Linked DNA regions of Homo sapiens: region 1 is linked to region 2. Evidence: fine-mapped expression QTL. A gene starts in region 2. The other region holds a variant in brackets. All regions are shown on one strand. Distances are from middle to middle. Region 1 overlaps TEK (TEK receptor tyrosine kinase). Region 2 holds the start of TEK (TEK receptor tyrosine kinase).

Region 1 (4,402 bases), 81 kb before region 2:
AGGTTTGCTCAAAATGACCAGAAAACTGATTTGCAATGGTCATACTATTACAATGAAGCATTCTGAAGTCCTTGAAAATAGCACCCATAAACAAATGGTATCTGTCTCTTTTCTCCTTACCTATTTGCTTTAGTCAGCCTCTGTTTCTCCATGGATACTGCAAAGATAAATTTCTGCCTTATCATATGATAAATTCCTACTTGGTAAGAAAAAAAACTGGGATGTGTTTAACAGTTCTTAGAAGACCACTTTGTGGATGTCCACTTGTAGACAAAGGTGATGGATTATTACCACCATATGACAGCAAAAGACCTAGCCATTGATGTTGGAAACAGCAATTCAGCAAATCAGCCTGACATCCCTGGAATTCTGAATTTTGATAGAATCTACAATAGTATGTGAAGGACTCAGTAATAATACCATTTTATTCGGTCTACCCAGGTCAGCTAGTGTTATTCAGCCCAAAACCCTCCTCCTCTTCTCTTTTTTTTTTTCCATAGTTTTCTTAATTATCTCCATATAGTGAATAGAGGGTCATTTTAAGGAAATCATAGGCATAGTAAGACAAAGGTATGGGCGGAGGAGGACATGCTGCCTACAAGCATGTTAGTGGCAGGTCTTTTTACAGAATAGTCCAATTGAAGCAGCATGGTCACTGATAATGCTCTTTGCTTTTTAAAATTGTGATTTTACATTATCATACAACAAATATAATTGTAATTTGTGTTTCAAAATAAATTCAACTGTTTTCATGAACTTTTGGCATTTTGTCACATTTTGTTCAATTATTTTTTTCTTTCAGGAAGTTAGGGGAGGGGTCTGTAGCTCCCTTTGCCTGTCCTTGTCCTCCCCCGAGCCCATTCCAGTCTGCCACAGCCCAAACTTTGCAGGTTCAAATTCCTTCAAAAATCTCTCTGTGTTAAGAGTCTGCAGGACAGGGCAAGACATGAAATGAGAAAAGGAATAAACAACTCAATACAGCAGCAACAATCACCCCCAGGATTTAGGCAGATTAAGCCTCTCTGCCCTTCCAGCAGGCTCTGGACTTTCCTGCTACCATATTCATGGCATAAACAAGTGCCTTTCCCCATGACCAGCCAAGATAGAATAACTAAAAACAGGACTGGAGATCCAAAAAGAAATATTGATATAGATAGTAACTCATGGTGTGAGCTGGTTCTGTGTTCTAGAGCGCACAGTGACTTCAGAAAGTTAGCCCCAGAGCTCAGGGGCCCCCTGCACTCTCTCTTGAATACTCTGAAACAGAATCCTCTGCAACAGCCACCACCTTGAGGTAGAGGATTGAGGCAGGGAGAAGGGAATTTCTAGATTTGGAGAAAAATAATTCTCCTGGTGCCACATCCCCAGCTGGCATCTATCCTGTCCAAAGCTTACCTTGAATATGTTGCCAAGCCTCATAGTGATTAACGGGTTTGTATAGAAGCTTCTTGGATTTGATTGGTCCATCCCCAAAGTAAGGCTCAGAGCTGATGTTGATGACAGCAAAGTTATGTCCAGTGTCAATCACGTTTGGGGCATTCAGGGGCTTTGGAAGAACTAAATACAATTTCAGAAGGCAGATTAGTCCTTCGGCTTTGAGGTTTTGTGATTGTTCTTAGGTAGAGGTAGAAGATATGTTTTACATGTCCAACAAAGTCCTCTTAAAGTTTTCTGCTCAGACTCAGTGAGATCACCTGCTCTCTAAGCTCTCTGCTTTGCTTTTGCTTCCCCAACCCATTATCCTCAAAGTGCTTCCTTAAAATAAATGTGCCCCTTTGCTCAAGACCCTTCAATGGATTCTCATCACATGTAGGATAAAACCAAAAATTCATAT[C/A]GTGACCAGCCAGGCCTTGAGTGATTAAGCCCCTGCCCACTCTCCAGCCTCCTCTTCCCCTCACCTAGTACCCTCCAGTCCCACTGACCTTTCACTTCATCCAACTAACAAAGCACGAACCTCCTTTCTTTAGATTGATTGTGGATGTCTCTCTTCTGCAAGGAATGCTCCACCTCCCATTATTCTCCCAGTTAATTCTTAGCTCTGATGTGAATATTTCACAGGTGGCTATCATAGAAACTGAATTAAGGTATTGTATACTTTCACAGAACCTCTACTTTTCCTTCATGGTGATTTTTAGGGGTTATTACTCTTTGTAGTATGATTATTTGATTATTTGATATTGGTCTTTCTTCTAGATCATAATTCATTCTCTCTCTATATATATATATCTCTCTCTTTCAGCCAAACAACTCAAATTTATTATAGTTCTAGAAGTCAGAAGTCAGACATGCATCTCACTGTGCTAAAATTAAGGCATTAGCAAGGCTGTGTTCCTTTCTGGAGGCTTAGGAGACCATCTGTTTCCTTGTTCTTTCTAGCTTCTAGAGACTGCCTGCATTCCTTGGCTCAAGGCTCCTTCCTATCCCTTCAAAGTCTACAACATCAGGCCTCTCTGATCCTTCTCTGACCACCACATCTCTGACTATTGTCAGGAAAGTTTCTCTACTTTGAATGACTCAAGGGATTGGAATGGGTCCACTCAGATAATCTAGAACAATCTCCCCATCTCAAAGACCACATCTTCTCAATGGGGATGACAGCGCCCCAGAAACAATGAAAATTGGTTCTTGGAGGATGCAAAAATTTTAGATATTACAATGGGTTGCAGCCCGCCAAAGAGCCATAGTACATAAAGAGATATAAAGTACATCTGTGATAATAAAATCTTATGGTGATGAGGGAGAGTTCTGGAATACAATTTCTAAAAGAGCTCCTTAGTGGGATGATAATAAAAAGGTTGTGAAACACCACACTACACTCTAAATTCCATTAGGGCAAAGACTGTGTAGTTTGTTCACCAGCACCGACTAGGTGCTGAGTTATTGTTTGTGAAGTGAATTTCCAATGAGCTCTATAGTTCCCTTGGCCCAGCCTTCTTAGAAATGCATAACTCGTTTTGTTTTTCCTCCCCAAGAGTGTGTATTATACAATGCAGAACCTTTCAGATTTCAGAGGACATTGCAATGTTCAGTAATTTTTCCTTTTCTTTCTGTCTCAATGCTTTGGCTCACCTTCCTTAGACATAACCTTCAAGTCTTTGCTCAAATATCTTCTCAGGAAGGCTTGATTACCCTATTTAAAATTACAGTCACCACTCCAGCCCTGCCCCAGCATTCTCTACCCCCATTTCTGCTTTAATTTTCTCCAAGACACTCAGCATTTTCGTGAACTGTACATTCTACTTATTTATTTGCTCACTGTTTATCTCCCTGTGGGAATGTAAGCTCCATGGTGAGTCTTTTTCCCCCTGTATTATTCACTGCTCTATTCCCAGTGCCTAGAACAGGGGCTGAAACATAATAGGCCTAAAGTAAATTCTATTGACTAAGTGACGACTTAGGAAGTTGTCCAAGGTCAGGATAATAAAGCCAGTAAGAAGCAGTATCCCCTAACTGGAGGCAGATCATGCCAATATTAAGTTAGATAAGTCTGAGTACACATTTCACTTAGGCTAGAAAGGAGGGCAGTGCTGTAAGTAAATTTGTTCAAGTAATGCTTTCCTTGTATGATAAAATAAGGCCACCCCTTTCTTTAAACCAGCAGATGCACATTTTATTACAGCCATTAATGTCAGTCTGTGATACTTCTACAAGGGTTTAAAAATTGCTACAAAGGCTTCCTCTTAGTAATCTACTATTTTATTTTTTGCCTTTTAATCATTTTTACTGAGATGGAACATACATATTGTAAAGCGTGAATATCTTAAGTGTATTTAGCTCAAGGGACTTTACCTATGTGTACACCCATGTAACCACCACTCAGATTAAGATAGAAAATATTCCCAGCCCTCCAGAAGGCACCTGTGTGCCCTTTTCCAGTCAATATCCTCTACCCAGAGGTAGCCTCTATTCTGACTTCTGTGACTGAAGATTAGTATTGCCTGTTCTTTAGCTTTATATAAATGGAATCATAAAGCATGTACTTTCTTTCACTGGTTATCATGTTTGCAAGATTCATCCATACTGTTGCGGAAATTAATTCTTTTTTATTACTGTTTAACATTCCTCTGCATGATTTTATGGGCTAAATTGTATTCCCCCCAAATCACACATTAAAGTCTTAACCCCTAGTACCTCAGGATGTAACCGTATCTGGACATAAGGCCTTTAAAGAAGTAATTAATTTAGAATAAGTTTATTAGGGTTTGCCATAATCCAATATGACTGGTGTCCTTGTAAGAGGATTAAATTAGGACACAAGTACAAAGGGAAGACCCTGTACCTGTGTCCTAATTTAATCTCCCTGTGAAGATACAGGGAGACAGTGGCCATCTACAAGCCAAGGAGAGAAGCCGCAGAAGAAATAAACTCTGCTGATGCCTTCATCTTGGACTTGTAGCCTCCA
Region 2 (4,402 bases):
AGTAAAAAAAGTGAATGAAAACAGTTGTGTGTGTATTAACCTACAAAGTACCTCAGAGAAACTATAGACACCTGGGCTTCACATCACTATAATCCCTGGTATAGAGTAAGTTCCAGATTTCATGTCACTGGTAAATAATGGCACTCAGAAAAAAAAAAATCAAAAATGGAATCATGATAATTATTTGAAGTACATATTATTGGAGAAGTCAACATTATTTAAACAATTTCCACATAAATACTGAAGCCACCTAAAATCTTTTAATTTTTAGCAACTTGTGTTACACATTCTTAAAGAATATTATTAAATTCTCAAAATATTGGTTGTTGAGAGCTATAAAACAAACTGTATTCAACTCAGTTATTTCATTGGATTTGTTTTTTGAATATTTAATAAAATAGTTCAAACACCTAGAAAATATAGCAGATACTTATGTATACTCGAATCAAATTATATTAATATGCCCTATATCCATGAAGTTTAGTGAATTTTCCCAAATTCATCTCCAATATCAATTCGATTTTCGTTATTAAAATTAGAATGTTTTCAAACCGAAGGGGAGAGACTGATGGCAATGATAAATGTATTTGTGATATGTAGTTCAGGTTTGGATACTGCCTTCTACCTATGTCACATAGGCTGAGTGAGCTACAGAGGCACACCACTATCTGGAGTATCTAAGCAATAAACACGCTGAACCCAACACACTGGCCAACCACTCCTTCACTCTACAACAGGCTTCATATACTCTCCTGTGTTAAAGATTTTGGTAACTGCCTAAATTTTTGTTTCATTGGGCCAGTAAACCCTTTATGAATTACTACATGGCAAACATTTTTTAAAATAAAACAAAAATTCTAATAGCCCCAATCTCCCTGACCCTAACTACAAGAAAAAAAAAAAAGCCTACAATTTCATTGCTTTGCTTAAAATAGGATGTAGATATAAAATCTTTTTACAGAAAAGCATCTTTGTTCCCTTTTAACAGTGACAATCTATACACTGCCTTAATTGGGCCCCTGTATTTCTCAGCATGAATTTCATTTTTTACTGAAGATTTTCTTTAAAGCAGGTAAAACCGGTTTGTTCTTTAAAAAAAAAATCAATAAGAAAAACACTCCAGAATGAGGAGCAGGAAAATAATGCATGATAGTAAGGGGATCTCTTCAAATAAGATGATTTAATCGGTCCTCAAAGAGTTTCTAACACAGGGGCCAATCACCCAGAAGACAAACTAGCAAAATCAGTTCATGCCACAGAGCCTTTGCATTTCAATCCTTCCACACATATTGACTGGAGACTCACAGAGAAATGGTGCCTTTGCTACAGCCACCCCTTGTTCATCAGCACTGATGAGATTTGGGGAGAGCACCCAGAAATCACTAACTCTGTTTTTTAAAATACTAAATTAAAAAAAATAAAGCCAAACCTTACCAGAAAGGAGCAAGCTGACTCCACAGAGAACTAAGCTGGCTAAAGAGTCCATGCTTCCCCAAATCTCTCCATCCAGTTTCCACAAATGTGCATGAGGTCCCAAGGATCCTTTCAAAAACCCAGCGGTTTGTGACTTTCCATTAGCATCGTCCTACTACGTCTTGTTTACAAGTTAGAGGCAAGAAGGAACAGCACAGAAGCAGGCTGTAACAGTCTCATTTCTGTCTGAGCACAGGGAGTTTTAAGTTCCTTTTTCCTGTTTCCTTTGTAGATTAGGATGGGAAAGGCTGTATCTTAAAGGCATTTGGTATCAGCAGGGCTGGGGGCACTCAAGCCCTATCCATCTCGCAATTCATCAAAACACTTATCTGTTGCTGTTGCTTCTGCTGCTGCTTTTGCTGCTGCTGTAGGGGCAGAGGAATTTTTGTTGGAAGTGTGGGTCCCGGTCAGCATTTTCAGAAACAATAGGGGTATCCTCTCATAGGCGGGAAACTGAGAATAACAAGCCCTCCACCTATGTATGGTATGCGATGATGACCAATCCTTCTCAGACTTCTAACAGCTCTCCCGGGGCTACTGGGATCTCTGACAGAAGGAGCTTTTGGGTGTGGGAAGCCGTTTTGGCTTTTGTTTTCTCATTTTAACCCACATGGTTTGAATTGGGAGAAGAAGGTTTCCGTGATGAGAAAATACAACCTGAAAAGCAATTAATTTCAGTGAGCACCGGTGAGGTCAATGCTCAATGTAGCCCCAAGAGACCAGAGTCCAAAATTGTTAGCCTGTTTTCTTTCACACAGATGGCCTGTTGGTTGGCCATTAGCCCAAAGATACCCATGTTGCCGGCTATAGCTTTAATTTTCATTAACAATTCATCTAAAGGTGATCAAATTTCTTGAAGAAGTTGGCATAGAAGGATTTTGGTAATGAGAAAGATTTGGTAGTCATTGAGCAATGGTGTTTCAGAAGCAAATTATATATAACATTTAAAAACTAATCTGTGTAAAAACACAAACATACAGGATTAGATTGGGATAAAAATGGTGCTCATGAGAGCAAAGAGAGTTCATGGACCAAAATGAAAATAGCCATGGAATGTACAATATCTAGAATGAGGTCAGAGACCCTACACTTATCCAGATAATTACTCCACAATATGAATTATGACATTAGATTAGAGAGTATACACTTTGCTCATCATCGACCTTCATGCCTGAGGAAATCATTATACTCCTCCTTTTCCTACCCACCAGAGGAAAAGGCAGATGCAGCTAGTCTTGACTAATTTCTGTCCCAGGTTTTATCACATCGATGATGATCTTAAGAACCAATTAATGTTTCCAGTTTGCAGGTGTGAAAAAGCCCAGGTTCTGTCTGCAAACAGAACTGGGTTCAAATACTGGCTCAGCCACATGTGTAGCTGAGAAAAGTTACTTAGTCTTTTTGAGCCTCAGTTTCAACAGCTGTGAAATGGCAAAAATATCTCCTTCCCAGGTGTTTTGAGAGGAATAAATGAGGTTTAAAAATATAAAACCATTTGGTACTATGCCTAGTTCTTTGAAGGTTCTCATTAAATGTTAATAAGTTTATTTTCTTTCATCTTTCCATTCAGTCTCAATTTAAATTCCAAGAGCTTCTACTAAAAAGCTATTTTCTATTCCTATGAGATGACTTTAAATTTGTCATCACGAAAAAAAAAAACAAAAACAGTGGGCCTGGCACAGTGGCTCACGCCTATAATCCCAGCACTTTGGGAGTGGATCACCTGAGGTCAGGAGTTTGAGACCAGCCTGGCCAACATGGCAAAACCCCATCTCTACTAAAAATACAAAATTTAGCTGTGCTTGCTGGCGTGCACCTGTAACCCCAGCTACTCTGGAGGCTGAGGCAGGAGAATTGTTTGAACCTGGGAGGCAGAGGTTGCAGTGAGCCGAGATCGTGCCACTGCACTCCAGCCTGGGTGACAGAGCAAGACTCTGTCTAAAAAAAAAAAAAAAAAAAAGAAAAAAAAGAAAGAAAAATGAAGTTCCACACAGGCTAAGTTACTTGCTCTGCTGTGAGTAGCAGAGGTAATAATATCTGAATCCTGAGCTCTGGACCTCCAATTTTTCCCTTGTTTCATAGTTGAAAAGTAGATCAAGAGTAATGTAGGACATCACAAACACCAGCAGGGTACACCTAGACCTTACAGAAGTATTTGAAATGAAACTTTGACAGATAAGAATAGTTTGGTGACACTGAGAAGTGCGGTCAGTTCTTAGTGTGCTTCTGAAATAACTAATGTCAGGATCGGTGGGTGCTGTATTAATTCACTTCAGGAAAATGAAAGGGGCCTCCTCATGAGTCAAGCTCATTCCATTTAATTTGATTTTTCCAGACATACCTACAGTAAAAGCATAAAGAAAACCAAACCAAACTAAACAAACAAACAAGGCTCTTGGCTGATTCTTCATTTTCTATTTCCTGCTTTTTGCACTCAATACATGAAAAACACTATAGACAACATTAAAAGTCTTTGAGACTAATTAACAAAGGTATCAATAGATAACAAAACGGTTTTTCTGAAAGAGGTGGAAAATAACTTACATAATACTACTATACACTGGTATCACATGTCAAGAGGTCAACATCACAAACACAAAGCAAAAGCCTTGTATGCATACCCTTTGGCCCAGAAAATCCAGTTTTTTTTTTTTTTGAAATAGAGTCTCACTCTGTCGCCCAGGCTGGAGTGCAGTGGCACTATCTCGGCTCACTGCAACGTCCGCCTCCTGGGTTCAAGCGATTCTCCTGCCTCAGCCTCCTGAGTAGCTGGAATTACAGGCGTGCACCACCACACCCGGCTAATTTTTATACTTTTTAGTAGAGATGGGGTTTCACCATATTGGCCAGGATGGTCTTGAACTCCTAACCTCATGATCCACCCCCCCCCCCCCTTGGCCTCCCAAAGTGCTGGGATTACAGGTGTAAG

Evidence for each region.
Region 1: its variant is fine-mapped to the expression of TEK in whole blood (INTERVAL, PIP 0.94).

The regions. Positions count from the first base shown.
Region 1 is chr9:27,187,684-27,192,085 of GRCh38, reverse strand. It overlaps TEK (TEK receptor tyrosine kinase), which reads right to left. Exons shown (of 23, transcript NM_000459.5): 10 at 1,396-1,557. Among named protein-coding and RNA genes, the nearest start is that of TEK, 81 kb to the right of the region's middle. The variant C/A (reference allele first, on the strand shown) is at 1,835.
Region 2 is chr9:27,106,675-27,111,076 of GRCh38, reverse strand. It overlaps TEK (TEK receptor tyrosine kinase), which reads right to left and starts at 1,852. Exons shown (of 23, transcript NM_000459.5): 1 at 1,435-1,852. The coding sequence starts at 1,486.